Regions from separate parts of the Homo sapiens genome. Here region 2 is linked to region 1. Evidence: fine-mapped expression QTL. A gene starts in region 1. The other region holds a variant in brackets. All regions are shown on one strand. Distances are between the middles of the regions.

Region 1 (2,918 bases):
CAAAGCCATGGTATTCAGACGAGAACCCAAGTTTATCGTGCATTCAAAAGTTCTGTTCCTCAAAAAGCATCTACAAAGTGTGATTAGCTAATGAATCCATTAATCAAATATTCCTACTTGGCACAAGTCCCTGCTGTGAGAGGACAGTTAAGATAGGTCCCTGCCTTAAGAATATTGTAACCCAACTGAAGAAATAGGATGTGGAAGAACTAAGATGTCGATTAACAGCACAAGGCACAGAAGAACTAAAGTGTCAACTAACAGCACAAGGCACACACAGTGTAAGTCTCAGCCAGTTCATATGGCCCATATCCAACAATACCAACCCGTGTTGAACATTTATTATACAAGTGCTTTACAAGTATTTTCTTATTAAAGCTTCACAACCCTATGAAATAGATACAATTACAGTCTCTTTAAAGAACTTGAGTAGCATATCTAAAGTCATGCAGTTAAAAAACAGTTTCAAGGTCAGGTCTGATTCCAAAGCCCAGGTGCATAACCACAGAGCCCCTGCAGCTTGTAGAGCTCACAGTGCTTGGGACTGGCCTAGGAAGTCAAGGCTAGATGAGGAAGGGTACTCGGAGTTAGGCCTTAAAGTGGGCAACACTGAAATAGGCCAGTGATGGAGATAGGTCACTGTGTGGCACTGCGGTGGAAAGAGGGTTGGAGAGAGAAGATAGAGGAGAAGAGGAAAGAGGGCAGAGCATGGCAGCTGCTTGGGCACAGCCACTTTAGGGTGAGAGATGAGTGAAGATGTCTACCTTGTAGGCCATATCAACATGTCCCCCTTCTTCTGTGAAAAATGCCATCATCCCACACAGGAAGAGTTGGAGAGGGATCTGACAGTGGAGTCTGGTAGGAAAGGAGTCTGGCTTTTCATTTGCGCTTCCTTCTGCCCCTCTTGCCCCAGAGCAATATCCCAGGCTTTCCACCAACCCAGCCCACGGGGTGGCCATGCTACAAGCCTTTTGAGTCCTGCATCCCAAGAGGGGCAGCTTCTTGGCCTGAAGTTGTCTAATAGAGCCTGCCTGGCTCCAAGCAGGCCTCATCTCTGCTCTGTCTACTGGATCTGGGCTCTGAACTGGGGTGGGAGGTGGGGAAATGGGGAGGCTGGTTCAGGCTACCACTTCCTCTCCTCACCATTGGATAGCCAGCCTTTCAAGGAAAGTAGGGGGCCAGTTCTGTGGCATAGAACAGTATAGTTCTTAGGCCCTCCTATTTCAGAAAAACACTCAAGCAGTGTTTTCCCTCTGCTCTCACACCACGACAACAGTCATCAACACAGAAGACTTCTGCGACCAAATGTAGGGGATTTTCCCCCACACACCAAGCAGCGGGCACCAGCTGGGTGTCCTCCAACTCAGTTCCAACACTATCTACCTGGAAAGAGTGTCTGATCCCACAGGTTGAGGGCTCAGTCAGATTAAGAGATACATACGCGACGTCTGGAAGATCCCGAGCACAGGACCTTCCGTCCTGATAGGATAAGTTCTTCTTCACCTTCCTGTTTGCCTCCACGTGTTCAGCCCTCCAGAAACTCCCTGAACCCTGTCCTTTGGGCCTTTTATGGAGATTTCATTTGTTGTCCATGACTGAAGCATGTGATTGAACAAAATGTGATTGGACAAAAAGGGTATGATCTAATCTCAGCAAGGTCTGTCTGTCCAGATTCTTCTTCCTCTCTTTGTGCAGCATTCCTTCCTCCAGGGTATGGGGCATGACCTCCTCTGGAATGAGGGTCTTATGACCCACAATCAGATTATAGAGTCCCGCCTTGGGTGGATGAAAGGAGGGCAAAGAAGGCCAGAGAAATATTCTGTTTCCTGAGGCCTAAAGCACCTCTACATTATAGCAAAAGACCTCAGCAAGTGTCATGGGAGTTATGGACAAGAACCATGGACAAAAATCTATATACATGTAATCATAAGATCACACCCCCCACCACACACCACATTGTTCTACATAGAAGTGCCTTCACTATACAGCTTTTCATTTATTCATTCGTTCATTCACTCATTTATTCAACGGGTAATAGTGAATTCCAAATCAGGAACTGTGCTATGTGTTGGGGGTGACATGGCCCCTAGCCTCAGGAGGCTTCTATTCCATGGTTAATGGTGGGTATTGCTGAGAGATGATCAGTCAACAGTAACTGCAATGAATGTTAGGATAAAGAGAAGCCCAGAAGGCTCCACGGTGTTCCAGCTGCTCACAGGGTAATCTGCCTGTCTTTTTTACTTCCGTATCTCCAATGCCCATTATCATACCAGGCACAGGAAGTGCTCAGTTAAGTGTTTACTGAATTAAATGAAGATCTGAATGATGCTGAGTGTCAACCCTCCCTCTCAGTGGCTCCTCCCCATTGGCCCTAAACCTGATACCTGGATGAAAAGAGATAAGGATACATGACAGTTCTTCAAGTAGGTCACAGAACGTTTGAGTTGGGAGGAAATGGACAAAGCTTTTTACATCACTGCCATCCCCTCCCAGTCATCATATCCCCACAGTGGGGGTACTTTATGAAACACTTGGACCTTCATGCTTTCCTAATTTCTTCTTATCCTGTATGCTCTTCTAAGAATACTGAAGTTGGTCAATGTTCCTATTAAAACTCAGGAATCTAAACTTTGACTCAGAATTTCTGATTGAGATGTCACTTCAGTTTCCTTGTGCATTCTCAGAGGCTCTACCCTGGCTCACCCTGGAGAGTAGGGGGCAAGAAGTCTGATACTACTCAGCTTTCTCTCCTGTGCCAAAAAATCCTACCTGCAAGAATTGGTATGTGTATTAGTCCATTCTTGCCTTGCTATAAAGAAAAGCCCGAGACTGGGTAACTTACAAGAAAAGAAGTTTAATTGGCTCATGGTTCCACAGGCTGAACAGGAAGCATGGCAGCACCTGCATCTGGGGAGGCC
Region 2 (2,918 bases), 110 kb before region 1:
TTAATTGTCCACAATTTTTAATTTAATAATTGGGTGGAAGTTTTCATAATATTTTCGTATGCTTTTCTGTGGTCTCCTAATTTTACATAAGCATGTACTATCCTATGGTTAAGAATGAATGAACGGAAGGAGATAGGGACAAATATTATTTTAAACAAACTATTAAAAATTAAACTTTTTTTCATGCTCTAGCCAGCCATTTATGAGATTGCAAATGAAACATTTAGTACTTGTGGTCATAAATCACAAATCAGTGATTTTTTCATATTTATTGCATACATTTCCCTCCAAAGATGATTTGGATTTGCCTAGGGTCATATTTATTTTGCGTTTCAACAGGTGGCAGGATATTATTGGAAAACTGGTCAAATTGGATCCTATTTGATCTAAGGTGCTTCCTGTTTAAGTGTAAAAGGCTAGTTGTAAAAATCCCCCAAAGTGCCCTTCTCTTAATTTTGATTTCTCTTCAAACTACTTCCAGGTTTATTTTACTCAGCCAATGGCATGACAGCTAAGCAATTCCTTGCTTGCTTACCAGTCTTCCCTCACTGAACTGAGAGCTCTTTAAGGACAGTGACAGCCACTCATTAGCATTGCACTTCAAGCTGATGGTCCATGGGGGCCTTCATACATATTTTTTCAATAGAGGAATGAATGAATGAATGAATGAATGAAAATAGAGTAAACTGGCTTTGATCTTACTCTTGCCCTGTTCATATCTGAGCAGTGGCTGGTGGGTCCTGATGGTAGGTGGCCTACACAGGAGGGTTTAACCCTTAAAGTGCCCCTTTCTCTCTTTGTGTTACGTTTCTTTAAGCATCTTTTAGGAGTAATCTCTTTTTAAGTCTTTTATTATTCAGGTTTGCTGTTAACATCAGAGTCTTTGAAATGAGATGAAAAATATTGGGAAACTTTGTAGACGTAACTCCAGAAGAAGACTATCCTCTCTCTCTCTCTCTTGCTCTCTCTCTCTCTCTCTCTCTCACACACACACACACACACACACACACACACACACACACACACTGGGTTAAGCTGCGGAATCCCCATGCCTAAAGGTATACTTTGCAAATAAGAAAGGAGGCCTGAGGACTGGTCCTAGACTTTTGAGATTTCCATACATCTTGGAAGGAAGGTTGAGGAAGGAGCAGGCTTTCTGACCATAGGAAGGACTTGGCAGATATGAAAGGCCAGGATGTTGTTCTCTGGGTGACTGCCACTTCAGCAAGCAGGACAAATGACTCAAC[C/A]CTTTGTGTGGAAGGGTTGGCTTAGAATGTCACTTGTGGTTTTCTCCCAGGCCGATGCATGATTTGCCTCTGTGTTTAAAGAGCTTGAAGCCACATGCCAAATTTATGGGCAAAAATGTAATAACATGGCTTATAGGCAGTGGTATGATGTAGATATGATTTAATTTTTAAAATATGCTAAAAAGTATTGACTCTATCTAGTGAAAAGAAAATTGGGCAACAATCAGCAAATACCATCAATATGGACACATTTCTCGGCAGTTTTGGGAAACACATGCTATTTCTTCACCCCTCGCCACCACCCTTCCCTACCTCCCAAGATGGGTCATTGCCTAAGTTGCACTTAACTATTTCTCTACAGACTCACCCAGTAAGTCAATACTTTCATTAATGTTACTGATTTAGATACTAAAACTTGTGCCAAACTTTCCACTATATCAGGAAAACCAACAGGGAGTCTAACTCCAAAAGGAGATTCACTGAAAAATGCTTAGGACCCTCATTGATTATAGAAATGTCAGACACCACAGTGAACTTTCCAATAAGCAATTATCCCCCTATTTCCTGAGATTATGAATTTGGGTCCAGTTATGTAGCACTTTTTGTAGAAACCCTGATCTTGCCTATAGAAGGCTGTCTAAAAAAAAATCACAAAGATGTTTTGCTTAATTTCCAAGTACTATAGGCTCTACTACTGTAGGGTCTACCCTTTTGACATTTCTTGAAACCACAGCCTCCCCTCCACCCTTCCTGCATCACTGCAGTAGCTCCTAAATGTTCTCACTGCTCACAATCCTGCTTCCTTCCAATTAGTCATTCTCTCTGCTACCAGAGGGATTTTTATAAAATACAAATATGTTTATGTTATTCTGCTTAAAATCTTTAGTGATTCTCCATAGTTTTTGAGATAAGCTCAATTCCTTGCCTTAACTGAGAGGTCTTTGGTGATCTGGCCCTGCCCTCCCCTTGGCCACGTCCCTGAATGTATCTGCACCAGGCACAAGGACTTACCGACAGGGCCCTGGATGCATCATGTCTATCTATTTGTCTGTGCCTTTGGTTATCCTATTCTTTACTCCTAGAATATTTGTCTTTTGTTTTCTTAATTAGCTTCTACCTTCATTTAAAACTCATTATAAGCATCCATTCCTCTGAAAAGTCTCCCCTGCCCCTCAATGTGCTTTAGATGGCCTGTTCATCTGTACTTGGCATCACTCTGGGCACACCGCCAGCATTACCATCACCTAGGGTAGTATTTGGTGATGTGCTGGGCTGCCCCTTCCTAATTCAAACCTCTCTCCCCCATTATAAGTTCCTGGAGGGCAGGAACCACATCTTGTTTGTCATTGTATCTTGGTACCTAGTTCAAAGATGAGAACGGTGGGGTGTTAAACAAATGGATGAACTTAGAGATTCTTTTAATTAGCTCTTGCATGTCAGGGTAGAGGATATTGGTATGTGAAAGTTAACTACTACTAAATACTAGTTCACATATTCCTAATACACCTGAGCCAAATGAAAAAGTCAAATGTACATTTCTACGGGATCTTATAGCATTATTTCATTTGTTCTTCACAACAGCCCTAGAGTGCAAGTTTCATAACATTTATCACCTTTTGTGGATAGGGGAACTGAAGCTCAGAAAGGCGAAGTGACTTGCCTAAGGTCAGA

Direction of the effects. Alleles are on the strand shown, and positions count from the first base shown. SD is a standard deviation of normalised expression in the study named.
For the expression in whole blood of the gene that starts at base 1,543 in region 1, allele C in region 2 goes with a lower level than allele A (small effect, 0.22 SD a copy in GTEx).

Evidence for each region. PIP is the estimated chance that this variant, and not a neighbour inherited with it, causes the effect.
Region 2: its variant is fine-mapped to the expression of CYP19A1 in whole blood (GTEx, PIP above 0.99). The same link has a PIP of 0.9 or more in damaged cartilage.

What each region holds. Positions count from the first base shown.
Region 1 is chr15:51,337,054-51,339,971 of GRCh38, forward strand. It overlaps CYP19A1 (cytochrome P450 family 19 subfamily A member 1), which reads right to left and starts at 1,543. Exons shown (of 10, transcript NM_000103.4): 1 at 1,442-1,543. RefSeq lists promoters at 1,468-2,045, 1,468-1,786, an enhancer at 1,707-1,786 and cis regulatory regions at 1,738-1,755, 1,820-1,849.
Region 2 is chr15:51,222,611-51,225,528 of GRCh38, forward strand. All of the region lies in intron 4 of CYP19A1 (cytochrome P450 family 19 subfamily A member 1), which reads right to left. The region is part of intron 1 of MIR4713HG (MIR4713 host gene); the gene reads left to right. Among named protein-coding and RNA genes, the nearest start is that of MIR4713, 18 kb to the right of the region's middle. The variant C/A (reference allele first, on the strand shown) is at 1,248.